3 separate regions of the Homo sapiens genome follow, and all the other regions are linked to region 1. The links come from fine-mapping of genetic effects on gene expression. A gene starts in region 1. Each other region holds a variant in brackets. All regions are shown on one strand. Distances are between the middles of the regions.

Evidence for each region.
Region 2: its variant is fine-mapped to the expression of FRA10AC1 in skeletal muscle (GTEx, PIP above 0.99). The same link has a PIP of 0.9 or more in tibial artery, tibial nerve and whole blood.
Region 3: its variant is fine-mapped to the expression of FRA10AC1 in whole blood (TOPMed, PIP above 0.99).

The regions. Positions count from the first base shown.
Region 1 is chr10:93,699,079-93,707,361 of GRCh38, forward strand. FRA10AC1 (FRA10A associated CGG repeat 1) reads right to left here and starts at 3,514. Exons shown (of 14, transcript NM_145246.5): 1 at 3,297-3,514; 2 at 952-1,028. The coding sequence starts at 1,028. RefSeq lists an enhancer at 3,503-3,802.
Region 2 is chr10:93,723,579-93,731,861 of GRCh38, forward strand. No RefSeq gene overlaps it. Among named protein-coding and RNA genes, the nearest start is that of FRA10AC1, 25 kb to the left of the region's middle. The variant C/T (reference allele first, on the strand shown) is at 4,388.
Region 3 is chr10:93,638,053-93,646,052 of GRCh38, forward strand. It overlaps PDE6C (phosphodiesterase 6C), which reads left to right. Exons shown (of 22, transcript NM_006204.4): 12 at 2,018-2,164; 13 at 2,398-2,505; 14 at 2,868-2,977; 15 at 7,908-7,995. Among named protein-coding and RNA genes, the nearest start is that of PDE6C, 30 kb to the left of the region's middle. The variant C/T (reference allele first, on the strand shown) is at 4,653.

The sequences.
Region 1 (8,283 bases):
ACTGGACACCCTGCCATAGACTGTCAGCCCTAGTTATAGTGATGAATATAATCCTGGAGCAGAGTATCCAACTAGATTTGCTCAAATTCTATTCTTACAAAGTAGTATTTTTGAATGAAAAATCTAGAAAATGTAAAGCATCAAAAATGTAATTTATTATAATTAGTACTATCCTTTATTGCAGAGACTGAGTATCCTATAAAAATGTTCAGAACCTGTTAGTATGCCTAATATATTGCTCTCAGTGTGAAATAATAAGCCAATTTCTATACATTTGCTTAAAAAAATCAGTCAACAGCCGTGTAAGTTTGGTTAGTATACATCAGTCAACCACTCCTGAGTCAAAGTATAAAACTGAGTTTCTATGCACTGAAAGCTAAGAACAATGCTCCTACGCACAGCAGCTCCACCAAGACGTATCCTGCTTATAACGCACAGGCTTTATGTGCTAAGAGTTTTTGTCTCTTGCAATTCAAAAAAACCTTCCTTGAGTTTCTTCCCGTGACCTTAGTCTGCTCATTCACGTATGCGTAAGAACTGTGCTGCATTATACTTTCATCCTCCATATTAACTTCACTTTGAAGGCAAGTAATGGCAAGAGACCACCATTCAAGCCCCTTCTGAGCTACAACATTTACAAATAAACAGTCCTTGACAGTTGAATGAAAAATATATGTAATGAAAAGGTTTCACTGATTTCTGAAAAGATTCCAGAAATCTGAAACTCTTCTTTCCCTTTCAATAAACCCCTTTGCAGAATTAATTTTTATTTTTCCCACAATTGTTCTCCAATTTTTAATCAATGTATTAGCTTAATGAACAAAAATTCATTCACTAGAGCAATTGTCTTCACATGTAAACAGAATTCAAAAATTTCACTCTTGTTTATTTATACTTCATATTAATCTAGAAAGGATGTGAAAAATAGATCAATAAAAAAAAATTACTTACCTTTTTTTCCTTTTGCTGGATTCTCCACAGCGTTCATCATCACTAAAATCAGAATCATAGCCTCCATGACCATGCATCTGTAAAGGAGTACAAAGTCAGCTATTTAGAATCTATGTTGCCAATTGTCCAGGAAACAATAATTCAAAAATAAGTTATCTTAAACAGCCACAATAGTTTTAAAGGATCATTGTGGGCAGATTCCTATTCACAGGCCATCTAGCCATCTAAAACTTTCATTCGCTTTTAAATAAGAGACATACCTTTCAGGAAATGCATCAACATTTTTCACCCTTAATTATCATTAGGTGAACAAAGAAGGCTACTCTTTGATCTTTTCACTGAAAAACCAGGCCTAAAAGCTGCAGTGACTGCTTACAAGGTTTAGCAATCCTTCACTTTTGATTCAGAGTAGTAATAATCACTGTGTGTTTATCACCAACTTTGTTCTAGACATTGTGTTAAATACTTTACAAACAACACTTCTAATTCTGCAAGTTAGAAAGTTATCTTCATTTAGGAATGAAGTAATCAAAGTTAAGTAAATCTATTTACAAATCCAGTAAGTGGCTAATCTGCTGTACTTGATTCCTGCGCCCACAATTTCAATTACTCCAAATTTCCTCTCTGGAATATGATTTACTATATTCCAGGAGAATTACAGTATTTGTGAACAGTACATCATCAATTGATGAAAATTTTCCTGTAATCTTTTTCAATATATGTAGAGATTTCCATTTTCTTTTGAGTTTCTTTAAGGTAAACCACCTTGCCCTTTGGATTAGTCAGCTTTCTCTTGTTTCATTTTATTTATCCAGTTATTTTTGGAGAGTCTCGCTCTATTGCTCAGGCTGGAGTGCTGTGGCGCCTTGATGGCTCACATCCTCAACCTCCTGGGCTCAATCAATCCTCCCACCTCAGCCTCTCCAAGTAGCTGAGACTACAGGAGTGCATAATCACACCTGGCAAACTTAAAAAAATTTTTTTTTTGTAGATAAGGGGTTTCGCCATGTTGCCCACGCCGGTCTCAAACTCCTGGGCTTGAGCAATCCGTCCACCTCAGCATCCCAAAATGCTGGGACTTCATTTTAGAACTGAAATTCTTAGAAATGCTGGAAGACCTCAGTTGCCACTCAATTGTATTGGAAGAAGCTCCTAGTTCCAGCTTTGCACTGAATTTGGAACACACACTAAGAAGGAAGGATGGACTATTTGATGTCATACATAACTAATTTACATGGCTGGAAGGAACAGTCCAGGTTAAATGATATATCAAATTGTTAAAACTAATATAACGACAGCAAGTGCAGCTGGAAAAAGAGGAAAGAACTCTCTAAACTTCATTGCATTGGATCTAGGGTAAACGACATGTTTCTAGTCCTGGCTACCTTGAATAAGTCATTTCATCTCCCTGGACTTCATCTATTAAATAAGATAGCTACATGAAATAATCTTTAAGTTGTTTAAATCTTTAAATAACCTTTAAAGTCTGTAATTCCATTTTCAAACATAGGTGTGTGGGTATATACCTCTCTTCTCTGCCCCACTAAAATCCTAGATAGGAAGATGCTAGTTAAGGTTGGAGATGAAGGTTTGAAAGCCCGAGTTCCAACTCTACCCTCCCTTACATCTGTTATTGCCTTACACACCTGGATTTTACACCCTTTTTTAGGTCAACTCCAGCTGTCTTACCACATCTGTTCAAGCCATATTGTCCTCTCACTCTTTGTCCTATGTCCTCACGTTCTTTACATCTTGATGGGGGACAGCTGTAGTGTGTTTAGAGATATATTCTAGGATCAGCCTACTAGATTTCACTGCTTGGCTCTGCACTTTCCATTTGTCTTTCTTTGGGCCTGTTCCTTAACCTCTCCAAGCCTCAGTGTCCTCATTTATAAAAAGAGGCTAGTAAGATGGCTGACCTCATACGAATGGAGATTAAAAGAGTTGCCTCATCTAAAGGGTTTTAACGGTGTCTTGTACAGTGAAACCCAGTAAATGTTACATCATCATCATCATCTTTTCCCTCGCCCCAGGACACGACTTCCTATTCTTGCTCCCACTCTCCCATTTCTTTATTCGCTGGCCGCTCCATCCGACCCATACCTATCTTAACTCACTGGTTGAACTAAAAAGCTCTCACTCACTTCAGGCCTACGAATCAACTGACAAGAGCGGGGAGAAACTCAAAAACGGAGATGCCAGGTGTCTCCAGAATCTGTCATCCAAAAAAAAAAAAACCAAACCAAAACAAAAAAAAACCCGACGATCAGCTAGTACTATATGAAAAACAAGTTTTGAGGTCCTTCTCCCTGATGCCAAATATACCCACAGCCCTCCTCACACACCCTTTCCCTTCCTCCCTGTGTGCCAAGTTCGCCCCCGGAGTCGTCGTTTCCTTCTTTCCCGGCAGCTGCAGCGACGACCCACGGCCTGAGAGAGCCGCTGCAGCACAGGTCCCGTGCGCCCTGCCGCACAGCCTCGCCACAACCACCACCGCCGCCGCCGCCGCCGCCGCCGCCCGCAACCCGCCTCTCCCTACGGGTCCCGACTGGGCACCACTTCCGGTCCGACACGGCCACGTGTTACATCTAAATGGCACCGTCCCCCGAGTGCGCCGACCTTGTGCTACAGCCAGAACAGCTCCGGGAAACAAGGGCAGCGGGAGAAACGGCCCGGAAAGGGACGAAGAGGCTTCCAGCTTTCGCCAAGTCGCGGCTCCCAGTTTTTCCCTGGGCCTCCTTCCTTTCCCCTCTAGGGAATCCGGCATCTAGTACCGCTGGCACTGCTTGCTGCTTAGCCCACGCCTCTCATTTGAAAATATATTTTGTTTTACCGTGCCTATCACCTGCCGTCCTCTCTCTAGTAACCTTAGTAACGCCTCCTCGGAGGATCCTCTCAGAGCAGCTCATCAGCGCTTCAGATCAGCCTCTCCCTCCTTCCCCCAGTAAAACAGTTCTCATAATTAGAACAAAAATATCTCTCCATCGTTTCGCCACCCACACAATAGATACCATTCCAAAAGCAGTGCTGATGGCAGAAGAGCTCATCGAATTTGTGAGGAAAGAAAGAATAGGAGGAGAGATTTCTCAGGGTTGAGGATTCTCTGCCGACAAGCGACCTGGCACATGCGAAAAGGGATCCAAAATAGAATCTTAAAAAGAAGAAGAAAAAAGGCAGGAAAAGTTGGATTATTTTAAGCGCCACTAGGTTCTTCCTGTGCTTTGCGTTTTCTACATCACGACGCCCCACTCTTTCCACTCTAGTTGTTTGGTTCATGTCTTGTCTCTCGCTGGCATTAGCAGCTATTCATTTTTTGCTTCCTCCTCAGTACCCAAAACGGTGCCTTGGAAATCACAAGTGCTAATTAAATATTTGTTGAATTGAACTGGCACGCTTCTGGCGTTTACAGTGGGCCCTTTTTAGAGAAAACCTTGGCACTTAATGCACAGTCATTTTACATCTTTTGCCCTAAACAGTAGATAACGATATCCTTATCAGTTCAAGTCTCTAACCCTGACAATAAATTATAGATACATTCTGCTTTATCCATTGCACTGAATGTGATCTTAAAAGGCTATAAGATAAATTAAATTATTGTAAATTAACTTATTCCAAAATGCAATCAGATTATACTTCAATAAAAACTTTTACTAAAAAAAGTGAAAGCAATAGGAAGCCTTACAATTTGACGTTATAGTATATGGAATTATTTTGTCAAGCAGTTTCTTTTTTGGTAAATATATTAAATATATAATTATTTTATTGTTAATAAAACTAAACAGACCTATACCTCATATCCAATTTCCTTTCTATCCATATTTGACATTTATTAGCATTTTTCTACCATCCCTAGCATCTTCTTGTTTGTTGCTTCATTTTACTCTTCCAACAACCCTGTGCTGCTGTGTTATTAGCCTCATTTTACACATAAGGAAGAGAGGCACAGAACCTAAAGCCACAAACCTGGTGAGGGTCGAGAACTGGGTAGTACTTGTGTCTGTCTCTCTATAAGACCCAGTTTCTCTCTCTCTCTTTCTCTCTTTTCTCTCTCTCTCTCTGTCTCTCTCTCCCCCACTTCATGGATTGTGTGGGAAGTAGCTTCTGGTTCCAACATTTCTAAGAATTTCAGATCTGTTGCTACCAGTCCATTCAGGCAAAGATTTCCATTTTTTACTTTGAGACAGCAGTTACTGAAAAAGAGTAAATAGAAAATATATATTAGGCATAGATTGCATGATCTGAACTAGAAATAATACAGGATAGAAAACCCACCTGCTTAGGAAATCTCAAGTTAACAATTATAGCTCAACAACAATAAAAAACACAAACATTTATTCAGTGCCTACTCTGGGCAGGACACTGCCCTAGACATCAGGGTTACAGGTATGTAACAGCAACTCCTTATCCTTGAAGGTTGACTAGTAAGACAGACAATGTGTGGAATAACTACAACAATATATTCTATCATATACCAAGTGTCTAGTACATGCATGAACCTGTTGTTCCTAATTTATAAAATATGTTATTTCAATGGATATGAAAATTTAAATGTGCACCAATGCTATGTAACTCAAAGCAACAAAATACTATATTAAGTATGTGGTCAGGATGAGGGAAGTTGGGTGATGATGGTGGTGATAATACCAAGTAATAATTCTGATATAAACTATGACTGTGCATTCTTTTTTATTCAAGACCGAGTCTCACTCTGTCACCCAGGCTGGAGTGTAGTGGCGTGATCTCAGCTCACTCCAACCCCTGCCTCCTGGGTTCGAGCAATTCTCCTGTCTCAGCCTCCCGAGTAGCTGGGACTAGAGGCGCACACTACGCCCGGCTAATTTTTGTATTTTTTTACTAGAGATGGGGTTTCACCATGTTGGTCAGGCTGGTCTCGAACTCCTGACCTCAGGTGATCCACCCACCTTGGTCTCCCAAAGTGCTGGACTTACAGGCGTAAGCCACCGCGCCCAACAAATGTGCATTCTTTCTTTTCTTTTCTTTTTTTTTTTTTTGAGACAGGGTCTCACTTCATCACCCAGGCTGAAGTATAGTGGTGCCATCTCAGCTCAACCTCCACCTCCCGGGTTCAAGCCATTCTCCTGCTTCAGCCTTCCCAGTAGCTGGGACTACAGGTGTGAGCCACCATGCCTGGCTAATTTTTGTATTTTTAGTAGAGGCAGGGTTTCACCATGTTGGCCAGGCTGGTCTCGAACTCCTGACCTCAAGTGATCCCGCCTTGGCCTCCTAAAGTGCTGGGATTACAGGGGTGAGCCACTGCGCCTGGCTGAATATGCATTCTTCTAATACTGTGTGTCTTTGAGAAGATTGCATTTTCCATGTTCTTTTTATAATATGATGCTGACACTTCTCTAACATAAGCTAATACCTATGGCCACAGCTTTGAATCTGGGCATGTCAGTGACTATAGCAGAAGTAATGCTAAGACACTTCTGATGCTAAGTTGCAAAAGGTGTTAGAGCTTCTGCCTGGGTTTGTCACTCTACTTCTTTAGCTGACATGGAGTGGAGCAGAGATGAAGTAACTTCACTGAGCCTCACCCAGATTGCAGACTAATAATCAGAATAAGTATAATTGTTTCAAGCCACTAAGACTTTGAGGTTGTTTGTTATATACCGATAAATATCCAGAACCATCTGCTGTCTCACTTAACCTCCATAACATTTGATGTTATGGAGCCACGCTGGGCTTTCTTTGTTTCTTCAACATGCATGCCTCTTCAAATTTACCATTTCCTCTACCCGGAATGGTCTTAAACCCTTTCTGTTTGCCTCCCTAACTCCTCTTTATCCTTCAAAACTCAACTTAGGTGAAGGAAAGGCCTTTCATGAGCATCTCTCCCACAGACTAGATAGGATTACTGATAATATGCACATTACTTTCCATTGCACTTAGCTACATACGTAGTAATAATTTAGCCCTGTTTCCCTCACTGAGATGCAAGCTCCACAATGGCAGGAAGCATACCTCTCTTTTTCAGTGTGGAATCCCCAGTGCTCAGCACAGTGCCAGACACATGATAGTTGCTCAGAATATTTATTGAACAAATGAAGTGGGTACTATTATTATCCCTATTTTACAATAAGAAAACAGATTTTTTTAAAAAAATTATATAACACTTCCAGAGTCATGAGTAAGCAAATGGGGCACAAATATAAGTGACTTCAAAGCTCACACCATATATATGTGTGTGTGTGTGTGATATGGTTTGGCTCTGTGTCCCCAGCCAAATCTTATGTTGAATTGTAATCCCCAATGTTAGAGGTGGGGCCTAATGGGAGGTGATTGGATCATGGGGGTGGTTTCTAATGGTTTACCACCATCTCCCTAGTGCTGTCTTGTGATAGAATTTTCAAGAAATCTGGTTGTTTAAAAGTGTGTAACACCTCCCTCTTTGCTCTCTTTCTCCTACTCCTGCCATGTAAGACATGTCTGCTTCCTCTTCACCTTCCACTACGATTGTAAATTTCCTGAAGCCTCCCCAGCCGTGCTTCTTGTGCAGCCTGTAGAACTGCGAGTGAATTAAACCTCTTTTCTTTACAAATTACCCAGTCCCAGGTAGTTCTTTATAGCAATGTGAGTACTAATACTAAATATATACATATATATATACACACACACATATATGTATATATAGAGAGAGATAAGTAGAGAGAGAGTGTTATCTCTCTGTTGCCCAGGCTAGAGTGCAGTGGCACAGTCATGGCTCACTGCAGCCTCAACTCCCAGGCTCAAGCAATCTTCCCACCTCAGCCTGCTTAGTAGCTGGTCCATAGGCTGCTGCCACCACACCTGGCTATTTGAAAAAAGATTTTTGTAGATACAGGGTCTCACTATGTTTCTCAGGCTGGTCTCACACTACTGAGCTCAAGCTATACTCCCACCTCGGCCTTCCAAAGTGCTGGGATTACAGGTGTGAGCCACAGCACCTAGCCCAAAGCTCACGCTATTGACCACCATACATATTGCCTTTCAATAAGGCCCATGGTGGTTTGTGATACTTAAAAGAATTAGAAACTTTTTTTATGGAGGAAAGGTACCACATACATTGAGACAGAGGGATTAGTAAGAGGCAGGAAAGGCTTTGTAGAGGAAGTGGGACTTAAGCTATGACTTAAAGGTAGCTCTTGAGAGGAGAGGAGAGGAGAGGAGAGGAGAGGAGAGGAGGGGGCAGTCAAGGCAAGGGAGTTTCGGTAAAGGATTAGAGGTGGAAATATCCACAGGTTATTTAGAGGAATTTGAGTAGCTCACTTGAGCTGGAGAAGAATTTTTGAAAAGGATTAGTGAAAGAAAGATCAGAAAGAGAGATTAGAG
Region 2 (8,283 bases), 24 kb after region 1:
ATTATTCAACCTTAAAAAAAAAAGGAGATATCCCCATTTGTGACACTTATAAACCTACAGACACTACGCTCAGTGAAATAAGCCAGACACAGAAAGAAAAATATGGCATGATCTCACTTGTATGTAGGATATTTAAAAAGTCCAATACATAGAAATAGAGAGTAGAACGGTCGTTACTAGGGGCAGAGATTGGGAGAAAATGGAGACATGTAGGTCAAAGGGTATAAACTTGCTGTTAGGTAGGAGGAATAAGTCTAGAGATCTAAAGGACTGCATGAGGACTAGAGTTTAATAATATTGTTTTGTATGCTAAAAATTTGTTAATATAGATTTTAGAAGCTTCTGCCACAAATACACACAAAAAGGTAACCATGCAAGGTGGTGGATGTGTAAATTTGCCTGACTGCAGTAATCATTTCACTAGCTCTATGTATATCAAAACACCATGTTGTATACTTTAAATATATGTAATCATAATAAATAAATAAGTAAATAAACAAAAGAGATGAGTTGTACCAGGTAACAAGGACTCATAATAAATCACTGCCTAGGGAAGCACCATGGTGAAGGGAGTGTTTGAGGAAGGACAATGATGTGTAAACTGGACAGGAACAGTCTGAAGACTGGATATTGTTAGAGCATCAGCAGCAGCCTATGGACATGTGGTTAATTAGAGCCTGGACCAGGTTGCTGGCTGTGAAATTAGACAGGAAAGAACCACAGAGAAAAATGACATTCCTCACTGTCACATCACACTCTCTCCCATTTCCTTTTCAGGTTCTTTAGAACTTCTTTCATTTACCTTAAAGGCTTATTTGCAGACACAGCTCAGCACAAACTCTAACTAGCCTGTAAATCATATATATATATATTTTGGCTAGGCCATGCTTCTACATTCTTAAAAGCCAATGCTACAGTGGGAATGAAAAGGAATCAGACCCAGTATAAATTGTGAATGGCTCTGAACTTAAGGCTTTCTACAAATGATGAAGTATTTAAATAGGAAGTTAAGAAAACCGAGAGGCCCAAGAGTGTCTCATCCAGTAGTACCATTCTTTCTTCCCTACACCTCCTGGCACCTTGGATACTCCCTCAAGCCTTCAGTTTCCTTTGCTCCCTATGGGAAAGCCACTGGATTCATTCAGGACAAGATGCGAGGCATCACACTCAGACTATGAAGACTGAAAGGAAACTTGGAGTAACCCAGCCTAAGCACTCAGGAACCCAGAAACACAAATGGCTGAAGGTGAAAACAAGACTGTAACCCACATTTCCCAATGCCCTCTGGGAGCACGATTTTTCTCCTTTCCTTTTCCTGAAATGCAATCTGAAACAAAATTCTAAAATAAAAATATTTTTTTCTGCTCAAAACTGTGCACATGCGTATTCTCTCTCTCTCTCTCTCTCTAGAATAGAGTCAATAGGAGATAAAACCTTCAGAATTCAAATGTCACCTTAAATACAGTGATTAAATAGCATTCTCTAAGCAGAATTACTTTAAAAGGGAGAAAGATGAAACATTTTTATTTTCTTTATGTTAGATCTGCCATCAAAAGTAATTGATAGACGTGTGCTGTTTTTTTTTTAGCATATCATTGTTACTTCCCTCAAAACTGTTATGTTACTGCTTGTACTCATTTTATTCTCCTTTCAGGACTAAATCTGCTGAAAGAAAAAGACTACATCTTGTTTATCTTTGCATTCCTCATGGGTCCTTGTATTGTTTTTTGCACATTGTTCTATATAAGGTTTTGGCACAGCGCTTACTCTTCTTAAAAATTGGTGGAATAACAGGGCATGAAATGACTTTCATCCAATATTTTTGCAACTTTTACCTTCACTACTTAAAAGAAAAAAGTCAAATAGCAAAATGAATATGCCATGTCAATTGGAGAATTTAACAATCTGTGTTTTAAAAGAAAACAGCTTAGGAAGCTCTGGTCTCAGACATGCTATTCTGAAATCAAAATCACATAGATGAGGCTGAAGAGTTGAATCGTCTTCTGAATCAAATTAAAAATTCAACCCATAGTAATTTTGGCAGAATGAAAACGTCAAATTGCATTTCAGCCAATTTCTCTTCCTTTTCTATAGTCGATGAGTTGTTTTGGGGCACAAGAAAAAATTTCAAGGATTGTGTTTATTTACAATATTTTCAGGAAAAAAAATGCCTGCTTGCTTTCCTGTAAAAGTGAGAGGAGCAGAGAAGCTTCCTAGACTGTTCTCAGATGCTTCAGCTAAAAAGTAAAATAACAGTGCCAATAATTGAAAATAAGGAGAAAAATTATGCCAAACACTTGGCACCAGCTGCAGCAATTAAGTAAGCACCTGCTTTATGCTTCATCTGCCACCATCCCCTCCCTCTTCATTTAGGCTGGTTTCTGGTTTTTTTGAGAATATATGCACCTCAGTGTACAAGCTCGCAGAGCTGTCTTTTTCCTTCTTTTTATTTCATTCCTTTCCCTTTGGCTATCATTAACTCAGGCATGACAGGAAGATCCAGACAAGGACAAGGTAGTAAAGACACCAATATTTCTAAAATCTAGGGCTTTAGAGAATGTTGGGGCAGATGTAACCATAGTAATCACTGGTATGAGAGCACTGATGTCCTTACTAAACAGCAGGTCACACCATCCCAAGGAGACCTTGCAAATGAAGATGCAGATTAGATGTCTGGAAGCAAGATTTTTATTAGCTTAGTCCTGAACCTTAGCTATGCAACAAAAGCCAGCTCTGCAGAGATTTAGGCTCTCAAAGAGACACCATCAAGGAGTTCGAGACTGTTAGGAGCATAGGGCTTAGCATGAGCATCAAATAAGGTATAAAAGAGGTGCTTTGAAAAGTTGAAAGAATTATGCAAATGTAAGGCAGGTATTAATATTAAAGATGTTTATCATAACCCATCTAAGAGAAACAAAATCATAAGTGTATTCATCCACTGGAAATGAATTTGCACTTTTTGGAATCCTGGGCTACCATTTCCTCTTTTCCCTTTTATCCTGTCTATAAAAGCTGGCTAATGATGCACCTACCTCAGAGGCAACTGTGAGGCTTAAATGAGATTATGTGCATGAAGCACCTTGCTCCATGCCTTGTATAGAAAAGATACTTAATAAATGTGAATTGCATTTCAAGGGGAAAATCAAGTACATTATCCTGAGAATTCTTCATACTTGCAGTTCATCAATAGATGCTTCACATTAAATTACATGTTTCCAGGAGAGAAAAATGGAGTGGTCACCCTCAACAGTACACAATCAGTGGAGCTGGCTGCTTCTCACATGGAGAAAACAGATGTGAAACAAAGGCATCCATCCTTCAATTTGTAGGTGTCAAAGTAGCAATTCCCCTCTTCTCATACTGGTAACTACTGCTTTGTTCTTCTGCAGAAAACATTTTAAAGCTGCTTTTGAATTCCCTCTATCATAGCCAGATACCAGCAAAAGAGAGACTCTGAAAACAGAGCAAGAGCTTCTAGGTACAGACCAGAAGCTCCTTGAGGTTAGGGACCATTCTACCTGGTTCCCTGCCACACTCCAGCACTTTCAAGAGTGCCCAGCAGATGACAAGCCCTTAGTATGCACTTACTGAATCATTTCAGTACATCAGAAATTTGAGGAAGTAAATGAGACACAAAATTAAAGGTGCTTTATTTCATCAATTTGATTGGCATGTCCTGCTTCATCTACCTTTGGTGCAAAATAATGTCTCATTTGTTTTAGTGCTTGATGTGGTTTGGATGTGTCCCCACCAAAATCTCATCTTGAATTGTAGCTCCCAAAATTTCCAGGTGTTGTGGAAGGGACCCTGTGGGAGACAATTAAATCATGGGGGCGATTTCCCCCATACTGTTCTCATGGTAGTGAATAAGTGCCACAAGATCTGACGGTTTTGTAAGGGGAAACCCCTTTCACTTGGCTCTCATTCTGTGTCTTGCCTGCTGCCATGTAAGACGTGCCTTTTGCCTTCCACCATGATTGTGAGGGCTCCCTAGACATGTGGAACTATGAGTCCATTAAACCTCTTTTTCTTTATAAATTACCCAGTCTCGGGTATGTCTTTATCAGTAGCGTGAAAACAGACTAATATGGTGCTCAAACCATAATAACTGAAGTTCATCTTATTGATCAGGGGAACCTATCCTACTCCTATAGGGTACTTTTCCCATGAAGTACCCTGATAGAAGTACCAGGAGCAGATAGTCCAAAGTGATTAACTTATTCATTGTTAATTAGTTAATATTACCTCATAGAAGAAACCAGAAAGTCTGGTGAGTCCACCAAAGGGCTCTGTTGTCTGCTGTTTGTGTTGCTTTACATCAGTGCAAAAACCATAAAGTTCAGTTATCTAGAATGAGACCCTATTTGTTTTAATATTACTACAGTAT[C/T]AAGACAGATAACTATTGACAGTCCTAAAAGATTCTTAGAGATTTTTAGGTGATAAATGGTCTCTCTCTCTCTCTGTGTGTGTGTGTCTATCTCTGTCTCTCCCTCCCTCTCTCTTTTTCTCTCTTGCTCCAGGACTGTGCCCACCCTTGGAACAACTGCACTAATCAGGTCTGAGCTTCTGATGTCACAGCACCTGTGGGGTGCCGACCTTCCAGTTTACACACACAGAGCCACTTTGTGCCTAAGGTACATCTATAGTGCCTAGGTGGCTGGATCAACAGATGCAGCATCCACACCCTGAAATTTTCCTAGAACCCTTTTCTTGACTCCACTCTCCGCTGGAGAACCTAGAAACCCTTAGCTTTAGTTTAAGGTGGTAACATTTGAGGAGTTTGGGAAGGGGAAGAGATGAGCATACTAGGAAAGCAAACAGTGTGACCAAAGGCAGAGTAGCAGGAAACTCAGGGTCAGCCACAAGAAACCTTCACTTGTCTGGACACAGAATCCATGCAGGGTGGGGAGCTGGGAGACGTAGAAAGGCAGGGCTATTTACAGATTTTATATTGAGGGCCAAGTGGTGTACAGAGGAGTCAAGATTTAAAGCGGCAATCATTCTTTCCTCACAACGTGTACAAAATGCTTTGAAAGTTCCCCTTTCTACCACATTTTAGACTTGGTGCAGAGAACTAGAACCCACTGTCACCACTTCAGTGTTCTGCAGAGTGGCGGTGGCCCTAGGGTGCCCTACTGAGCTACAGTGGCACATAGGAGTAGACAGTCTTCCAAATCATTAGGGCAGCATCTCCCAGGCTGGCCTATTGCATAACAAGGAAGAATTCTATGATAGGAACAAGCTGAAAGTGTTATAGGAGTGATATGGTTTTGATCTGTGTCCCCACCAAATCTCATGTCATATTGTAATCCCCATTGTTGGAGGTGGTGCCTGATGGGAGGTGATTGGATCATGGTGGCAGAATTCTCATGAATGGGTTAGCAGCATCTCCTCGGTCCTGTTCTTGTGATAGCAGGTGAGTGAGTTATCATGAGATCTGGTTGTTTAAAAGCATGTAGCACCTCTCTCTTCTCTTTCTTGGTCCTGTTCCTGCCATGTTAGAAGCCTGCTCCCACTTTGCATTCTGCCATGAGTAAAAGCTCCATGAGGCCTTCCCTGAAGCAGATGCTGCCATGCTTCTTGTATAGCCTTCAGAACTGTGAGCCAATTTAACCTCTTTTCTTTATAAATTACCCAGTGTCAGGTTTTTCTTTATAGCAGTGTGAGAAATGACTAATACAAGGGGGCCTTGAAAATACACTCAAGATAGTCTATGACAATCAGAGAACTGATAGTGATCATATCATGAGAATTGACTTCCCAAAATCCTATCTATGTTGATTGATAAGGAGTATGTTCATTCACTGATCTGGCCAAGGAGAATGTGACTGGCCACGATTGGCTTAGACTGATCTTGTCATTGGATTTCAACCCTGGCCATAAAATAGAACCACCTGAGTAGCTAAAGAAAATTGCCGACATCTAGGTCCACACCAGTGATTCTAGACTCATTGGGGCTGAGGGAACAATGAGTACAAAGGCCGGGAGTCAAGAGAACATGGTGAGTTTATGTGGATATTGATAGTTCTACATGGCCTGAACACAGCGTAGGGAAATAAATTCATCACCTTAGGCCTCAGGTGACACACTGGGACTACCACTGCTCTGTGAGACAAGGAAGTGGTGGGATAAGATCTAATGCTTTGCACCTAAGTCTAAAATGTGGTAGGTTCCCCTGTAGCCATATCAAAGTAGGTGCTGTTAAACAAGGGAATCTTAAATAAATCTTTGAGAGAGTCTGCAGTGGTTAAGGGTGCATGCTTGCGTGCAGCAAAAGATGAGCTCAGTTCTATCATCTAACACCTGGGGAGCAAGCCAGGGGACCAGACCTGAACCTTTGCGGGGAATCAAGTACTTAAAGAGGTATCACCTTTAGATTACCTTGTCCTCACCCTGTTCCCACTATTGTCTTTCCATCGTAGTGTTGAAAACTATAATGTCTACATATTTCACTGTAATGTCCACAAATTCAAAAAAAAAATGCCCAGGTTTGTAGAACGTGCTCCGTAAATGTGACAGTTTCTGCTCTACTTGCAAAGCTCAATAACTTGTAGTCAGGTTCTTGGGCTCTTCCAAGAACTTACCATGCCAAAAACCTATCCTGATTCTACCATTTACTTGCTATGTGCTATTGGGCAAGTTGCTTTACCTGTCTAAAACTCAGCTTCATCTGTAATATGGGGGTAATGATAAGTACTTAGGTCAGAGACTATGTGTTCCTCACACTTTCTTTTTCCTCCTGGTCATAGTCGTTGTGCACTTTTCCCAACCTTTCTTGCAGCTAGGCAGGCCATGTGATTGCATTCTATCCAATGGAATGTTGGCAGGAGTGATGCATGCTATATCCAGGCCTAGATCTTAAGAACCCTCCCATGGGGTCCCTGCCATGTGAACTTGCTCCCTCTACCCTCATCTGCCAGTGAGATGCAGAAGATCCAGTGAAGAACTTCAAGGTCCTGGGGAGGGTGAGTTTATTCAGGAAGGAACCTGAATCCCTCCCCCGCCTTCTGCCCATACTGTGCCATGGGTAAAAATCAGCCTTTAAAATATCAAGCCACTGAGATTTGAGGGTGTTTGTTATGGCTGTTAGCCTCACCTGACTAATTCAGCAATTCTGAGAATCAAACGAGAACATTTATTTATAATCACGGTGTCAGGCACAGAGTAAATATTTAGTAAGTAACAGCTATTTATCATCATATGATGTCAGCCCTGCTTTAGGTATGTAGACTTTTCCCTTCCCATATCTTCAAATGCTATTTCTTCCCTTTGATCCAGTGACCAAGACAACTCTGGATGTCCAGTGCTGCTTTATCTTTAAGCCTAATCACAACATTAATGCATTGCTTCTCTCTGGACCTTGCTTTTCTAGTAACGTTTCCTCGCAAAAATATGGAGGGTAGAGGGGATGTTTCTATCGAGATGATAATGGTTCTGAAATGAGTCAGAAGCATGAGGCATTTCAACTGGCATCATTCATCACAGCTCCATTTTTGCTTCCCCTGCCTTTCTGTATGAAGTCTACAGAGCTGAGAGTTAAATTAGTTTGAGAGCTGCCTCGGATGAGCAGCACAATCTGCTCCACTGTAGCGAACATTTCATAAAAACTGTTCCTGCCGAATTTTCATGAAACTTCCAAATTTTAATTAGAAACTGGAGAACCAGATGGGTGGCAAAAGGAATTTAAGGTAACAAGGGAGTAAGTGCTCTTACACTAAGGTAAAAATCAATAACCGTGTGACCAAGTGGGCACTTAATTGGCATGATTTGGAAAGTTCTAGCGGTTCTCCCTGTGGCCCTCAAACATCTCCATTACATGACAACAATGCCTAAAATTGTTAATAAAAACCCTTCACAATCACATGTTATTTTACAGTTGAGCCTTGAACAATGCAGGGGTTGGGGTGCTAACCCCTTGCAGAGTCAAAAATCTGTGCATAACTTTTTGTCTTCCCAAAAACTCAATTACTAATAGCCTACTGTTGACCAGAAGACTTATCAATGACATAGTTGATTAGCACATATTTTGTATATTTTCTATATATTGTATTCTTACAATAAAGTGAGCTAGAGAAAAAATGCTATTAAAGAAATCATCAGGAAGAGAAAGTATATTTACTACTCATTAAACGGAAGTAGATTATCATAAAGATCTTCACCCTCATCATCTTCATGTTGAGTAGGCTTAGGAGGAAGAGGAAGAAGAGGGGTTGGTCTTGCTGTCTCATGGGTGGCAGAGGCAGAAAAGATGGAGAAGGTGGAAGAGAAGGTGGAATAACCAGG
Region 3 (8,000 bases), 61 kb before region 1:
TCCATGAAATCCTGGGATATTTACGAAGACCCCAAGACCTTGAATTTCAGAGGATTGAATTCCTTCTGATTGAAATGGAAATATCACACTTAATTTCCTTACTAACTGCTATAACCTGTTTTCCACCATCTCTTTCCGATCTGTGATGTGAGCATTCTTTCTAAACTAAGACACATCGACTATCTCACCTTCTCCCTTTCCATCTTTTGTGGGCTCTGTCCTCCCACCCAGGGCCTTTGCTCTGCTACCATAAGACTGTTGGTCTTTGACCCTTTTTTGGGGCTTACTTCCCACCCCCGTGTTTTCATGTCATCTGAGGTTCCCTTTTCTCCCATTTTGCTTGGCTCCACCTTTGGCACCATCCTCTCAGCCTGGCCCAGAAGACCACCCTTTCTTCTCCCCACCTGCCCTCAACAATAGGCATCTTCTTGGAAAACAAAACTTTTATTGACATCCGTGTCACCAGAAATTCTCTAATTTCTTATTTAAAGGAAGAAGGATCTTATGTTGTAGAAGCAATAAAGTGGACAAAGAACCAGTAGACTTCCTAAAAAACCAGCCTATTTTGAATGTAAAATCTACTCAGGGCAAATCCCAAATCATTGTTGCATAAAATTGAGGAACGTAACAAATATTTCAGAGGAGTTCTCCAAAATTATCCTGGCATCATTTCCCAGCTACGTAATTATTTGTCCATCTTCACGTACCTGAGTCTCTCTCCAGGCCTGCACTTTCATGTTACCTCCAGGGAAGGCTCAGCTGATTTTCTGGGTGTAGCAACAGTTCTGTGCAAGAGTGTGAGGGGTCAGCCCAGGCTCAGGGGCTGGGGGAACCAGAAACCGTAATTTTGTTTTAAATAGCTATATACCATTCGGTGTTGAAATCTGTGTAAATAGAGCATGGCTGTCCCCTGAAAAACATTAAACTTACTAAGGGGAGTGACCTCCCTTTCCCTATGTTTGTGTCCTCCTCAGTGCACTAGTAAGGACATACTACACATTCAAATAAATACCCATTGAACTGAATCTCTCCTGCAGATCTGTCTGGTAGGCCCACATAGTTGTTGCTCATTTCTGCCTCTTAGCACTTTCTCACCCACATGGAATCGTCTCTCCGCTTCCTTCTGCCAGCTCAGCTGCATGCATGTCCCTCCAGCATCTCTCCTCCTTTAATTTCCCCACCTGTCCAAGGACATTCAGTTTCTCCCTCGGCATGGAGCACTGGCCATACTCTCTGATTATTCTAAGTGCTTACTTTTCACTCGTATATATTTTATAGCCACTTTAATAAGTTAAGTTCCTTAAGGGCAAGATACATATTTTTATTTCTCAAGTCGCACCAATGCCATGTGTCTACTTGGCTATTTTTTCACATAATCCGAAATCCTAACCAGATGTGAGTTAAATGAAATGTCTGCAAGTATACCTATGTACTGCAGGGCAATCATTGGTTTATCCATCCACTCATTCATTCAACAGGCATTTCCTGAGCACCTTCATGGGACAGGACCTGCAGATTTGGGATATGGCAGCAAATAAGCAGATGATCCCCACCCTCGGGGAGCTCACATTCTAGTGGGAAACTGTCACTGAGCACATAAAGAAAATTCAAGAGAATTGAATTAAGCAGTCGTTTACTGTTTACTGAATATTTCTTGAACAGAAAAAAAGTTGAGTATCAAAAATGAGTAAGGCTTTTGTAACTAAACATTTTATTTTGCATCATTGAAAGAAAAGAGCTACTGGAGTTGGATTTAGAATGGTAACCCATCACTTAGAAAGTCTTTAATATGGCCAAGTCTCAGTTTCATCACCTGTAAAATGGAGATAATCGTGTAGGCCTGCCGTTAGCATAATCTGTGCAAACTGCATCATCCAGTGCCTGGCACATGGTGGTTCAGTGAATCACACATTGTGTTCTTTTATTGTAATTTTGGTTTACACCCAATGTTGGCTATGGGAGTGGAAAGGGAAAACAGATGAATGTAATCTGAAACAACCCATCCTTATTTCAACAGAAAGAGGACTTGCCAGACCCACGCTCAGCAGAACTGTACGAATTCCGCTTCAGTGACTTCCCCCTTACAGAGCACGGATTGATTAAATGTGGAATACGACTGTTTTTTGAAATAAATGTGGTGGAGAAATTCAAAGTACCTGTAGAGGTCAGAGGGTATTTAATTTAAAATACTGTGTGATTCTGTGGCTCTGCTTCACTGATGTTTTCTGTGGTTCAAAAGATGGACTCAGTTTGAATTTTAAATTATTATTAACTTTCTAAATACATCAGCTTAACCCCTATCTACAAGACCAACACATCTTTTTAGATAAGATTGCCACAGACCTTCTAACCTTTAGAATTCTATTCCAAAGTCTGAATGGTGTCATCTTCTTTTAGGTTCTTACCAGATGGATGTACACTGTGAGGAAAGGGTACCGAGCTGTCACTTACCACAATTGGCGGCATGGGTTCAACGTGGGGCAGACCATGTTTACTTTGCTGATGGTAGGTACAGAGGGCTGTAAATCCTTGTAAACCTGCAGATTTCCCATTTGAGCATGATGAGAAATAGGTATGGTCCATCATTTTAGATCAGTAATTTAAAAATTCAGGGCACAAACCCCTCTCCGCTGCAGATGAGTCCCAGTATCCTTGAGCACCGGTGGGATGATCATTCAGACATTCACACACTTACCTTCTTAAAGGAAGGTTCAGTCTTCACCCACAGTACTACAATACTCACAACAAATAAAGTGAACTTGCTCCAGAAACCTAGTGGGCCTATTCTCTATTGCAGGCTGCACTTGGTATAGAGGTATATTAATTCAAATAAATTATAGATATGCATATATATGTTATTTTTTTAGACAGGAAGATTAAAGAAGTACTACACAGATCTCGAAGCCTTTGCCATGCTTGCTGCTGCTTTCTGCCATGATATTGACCACAGAGGCACCAATAATTTGTACCAGATGAAGTAAGTGAACACATGTCCAATGTTGACACGTATTGGTGGACATTGGAAAGTACTTAGGGTGAGAAAAACGCTTCTCCCTATTCCTTGGCCCAGTCAATGCCTCTTTGCCATGTTGGAAATTCCAGGGCTGGATTCTATTCCCTCCCAAGCTTCCGCCTTCACGATAACGTTGCTCTTTCTCCCTAGGTTCTTGCGTCCCCCTTTCCTTTCTGTTTTCATTTCCAGATGTGCCTCTGCCTTCTTCCTATAGGCCTTCAGGCTTTCTTCTCTCAACTTTGTTTAATCAGAGTATTGAATTCCTATATTAAAGTGCATGAATCTGGCTGGGCACAGTGGCTCGCACCTGAAATCCCAGCACTTTGGGAGAGTGAGGCGGGCGGATCAAGTGAGGTCAGTTCAAGACCAACCTGGCCAACATGGTGAAACCCTGTCTCTACTAAAAGTACAAAAATTAGTCGGATGTGGCACACCTGGGATTATAGGCACATGTCTATAGGAGGTAGACGTGTGCCTCTGAGGTAGGAGAAACACTTGAACCCAGGAGGCAGAGGTTGTAGTGAGCCAAGATTGCACTACTGCACTCCAGCTGGAGCGACAAAGAGAGACTCTGTCTCGAAAAAAATTAAAAATAAAAAACAAGTACATAAGGTACATGAATGTTAGGCTTACACTTGTACACTCCTATGGAGCACTCCCCAGCTCAGGCTAGAGAATACTACCCCTGGGCTCACTACCCTTCACCTCCCTGGTCTTTTTGCTTCTGCCAAACTCTCCTTCAGCTGGTCTTCCATCTTAACATCGATGCCATCTTTCTCTCTTGCCCCAAGAAAGGAAGTACAATAAGAAGGGTGCAAGCTCTGGGCTCAGGCAGATTTGGATTCACTGGGTCACAAATTATTTAAACTTTCTAAGCCTCAATTTCCTCATCTGGGAAGTAAGAATTATAGTAATGGTACCCAGCACATAAGGTTGTTGTAAAGATTAAATATGATCATGCATATAAAGCCCTCAACTCATGGTAGGATCTTGGCAGTTAATAAATATTAGGTATGATTGCTGGGTGCGGTGGCTCACGCCTATAATCCCAGCACTTTGGGAGGCTGAGGAGGGCAGATCACGAGGTCAGGAGTTGGACACCAGCCTTGCCAACATGGTGAAACCCCATCTTTACTAGAAATACAAAAATTAGCCGGACATTGTGGCGTGCACCTGCAGTCTCAGCTACTTGAGAGGGTGAGGCAGGATAATTGTTTGAACCCAGGAGGCAGAGGTTGAAGTGAGCTGAGGTCACGCCACTGCACTCCAGCCTGGGTGACAGAGCAAGACTCAGTCTCGGAAAATAAATAAATAAATAAACTTCAGGTATTATTATGGTTACTATTATTGTTGTGATGTCATTGGACTATTCATTCACCAGTATTGCTCATGGCCAGCCCAGTTCCTTGATAATGGGTTTTAAGATGGTCTATCTGCCTTAGCCACACTTCATTCTCATTTCTGACACATGAACTACCCCTCTCCAGAAGTAGTGAAGTGTTGTAGACAGACTGAATGGGCTTTGGAGTCTTGGGTTTGTGGGGACCAACTACTTCTTGGTTGGGGGATCTTGGACAAGTCATTTAATCTATTTGAGATTCAGTTTCTTAGCCATGAGATGTATAAAGTGTTGACCTCT[C/T]AAAGATTGTTGTGAGAATCCAGTGAAATTACATATGTGAAACCTACTTGAGAAAGTGCCTGCTAGGCAGGTTTCACATATATAATTTCATTGAGCGAAAAGCACTTTGTAAGCAGTGACTCCTCATCTTCAGCAATTCTACCTATTATTAGGCTTTGTCTTGAAAAGATGATCTCCATCCAGACTTGAGGCAAGAGACATCTTCATCTCAAAGGTTCCAGCCTACACTGGCCGCTCGCTCCTCCAGAATGCAAGTCCCCTGACAGTCACTGAAGTCCTCGTCCTCCTTCTTGATCAGTAGTATACTAGCCAATTCAGTTCCAGAGAAACAAATTGAGCATCTATTGTGTGCTAGTAAGGACTTGATACCTACTGCCTCATTTAACCTTCACAGCACAGTGAAGGGAGGTGCCATATAGGAGGTACTAGTATCCCCCACTTTAACTGATGAGCTCAAAAGATGAAGTTAAACCTTCCCTAGGTTATAGGAAGTAGCAGGATTGAAGTTGCCATCTTGCCTCCAGGTTTGCAGGAAAGATGCATGCAGCCACACCCTGCCCTCTGCATTGGCCTGGTTTTCTTTCATCATTCCTCCTCTGTAAACTCAACTGTATGGGCATGTGGTGATGGAAGGGCTTCCTGACTGCAGACTGTCAGTGTGTGTGAATGTCTGTGTGTGTATATAAATAATATATATATTTTTTGGAGACAGGGTCTTACCCTGTCACCCAGGGACTGCAGTGGCATGATCACAGCTCACTGCAGCCTTGACCTCTGGGGCCCAAGCAATCCTCTCACCTCAGCCTCCCAAGTAGCTGGGACTACAGGTGTATGCTACCATGCCTGGCTAACTTTTAAATTGTTTTTGTAGAGACAGGGCCTCCCTATGTTGCCCAGGCTGGTGTTGAACTCCTGGGCTCAAGCAATCCTCCTGCCTCAGCCTCCCAAGGTGCTGGGATTACAGGCCTGAGCTACTGTATGTGGCCAACTAATTCTTTTTTTTTTTTTTCACTAAATCATTTGTGAGTCAGCTGCAATACTAGATTTCATTCCTAAATATTGCAGCATATATTTATTAAGAATTAGGAGGACATTCACCTACATAAACACAATACAATGATCACCCTCAGTATTGGTACAATAATATTACCTAATATAAAGTGTTTTTTAAAAATTTTCCAATTACCACAATAATGTCCTTTATAGCTATTTTTTCCTTCTAATTCAAGATCTAATCAAGGAGCACACTTTGCATTTAGTTGTCAAATATCTTTAATCTCCTTTAATCTGGAGTAGTTGCTCAACCTTTTTGTGTGTTTCAGGATGTTGATGTTTTTGAAGAGTCTAGGCCAACTATTTTGCAGAATATCTTTCAATTTGGATTTAACCACTTGTTTCCTGATTAATAAATTCAGACTAAACATTTTTTTGGCAGGAATACTACATAGATGATGCTGTGTCCTTCTCAATGCATTGTGTCAAGAAGCCCATGATATCAATTTTATTTATGGGCGATGTCCAGAAGATCTCTTTATGTAAAGGAACATTTTCTCCTTTGCAATTAATAAGTAATACGTGAAACGTTAGTTTGAGATCAGATTAATATCTAGCTTCCCAATAACATTTTTTAACTAATGTTTTTAAACCTAAAGGAATTAAAGATACCACTCCTTTCTGACTAGAATTGAGCTTTTTCATTTTTAAAAATATACATTTTAAATTGCTACATAATAGATATACATACTTTTGGGGTACATGATATTTTGATACATTCATATGATGTGCAATAGTCAAATCAGGATAATTGAGATATCCATCACCTTGAACATTTATGATTTCTTTATGCTGGGAATATTCAAATTATTCTTTACTAGCTATTTTGAAATAACAATGGATTGTTGTTTGCTATAGTTACTCTGTTAATTTATTGAACAGTAGGTCTTATTTCTTCTACCTACCTGTATATTTGTACCCATTAATCAACCTGTCTTCATCCTTCCCACCTCCCTACCCTTCCTGGCCTCTGATAACCACCAAACTACTCTCTATCTTCAAATAAAGAAAATGTGGTGCGTGTATATATATATATATAGTATATATATAGTATGTATATAGTACTATATATATACTATATATAGTACATATATATAGTGTATATATATAGTACATATACAGTATATTTATATAGTATATATAGTATATATACACTATATCGATATAGTATATATATAATGGAATATTATTCAGCCACCAAAATAATGAAATCTTGTCATTTGCAGCAATATGGATGGAACTGGAGATTATTTTGTTAAGTGAAATAAGCCAGGCACAGAGAGTCAAATATCACATGTTCTCACTCATATATGGAGGCTTCAAAAGTGGATCTCAGAAGATAGAAAGCAGTTTGGTGGTTATAGAAACTGGGATTTACTCATTTTTTTAAAAATCTCTAATGCCAACACAGAGTAGTTGTTTAAATATGTGTTAAAATTATGATCGATTGTAATATTGATCAGATATGGCCTAATTATTCCCCAACTAAAGTATTTGCTTTCCCTGACCTGCCAGTAACCTGGCAATGACCTCTCCCAGCCTAAAGTTTTGTTCTCCATGAAATAAATAAAGCTTCTCTACTAAGGCTACCAGCCATGTTTTTTATTTCTTCTTTCTTTAAAATTATTTATTCTATATTTTCATGAGAGTCTTCACATAATCTCTAGACCTTTGACATCAGCCTCTTTTACCCTGAAGGCATTGAAGAAAAACAGGGTACAAAAGACTGGGGCCCCTACTTATATAAAGCTGTGATCTAATTGTTAATAAATGGGAAGGAACAGGGAGATACATTTATCTCACTGTCTTGGGGGAGGAGAGAAATGTTACCTTATAGTGCTTTTCATCTTGGTTCTATGCAGATAACCTATGGGCCTCCACATGTTTGCTATATGTTTTATAAGTCATAGTCCACCGCCATAAGCCCCAGGGAACTTAAAGAATTTAGATACAAGGAGCTGAACTCCTTAGTTTAAACAATTAAATCATTTATGCATTCAACAAATTAAGGTTTTTTTTTTCCAAAAGAGCATATTCTCATCTTCTAAATCTAGAAAATCTTTTCCAATATGTTATTTTTGACCACTTCACAGATAATTGAGTGAGGAGGGAGAAGAGAGACATTAAGAAAAATCCTGAATTGTATGAACCTATGTGTAATTTTTAAACAGCTAGAATCATGGCATGTTGTTTTCCTTCTAGATCCACGTCTCCATTAGCAAGACTTCATGGTTCTTCTATTTTGGAGAGGCACCACCTGGAGTACAGTAAGACTCTGTTGCAGGATGAGGTACG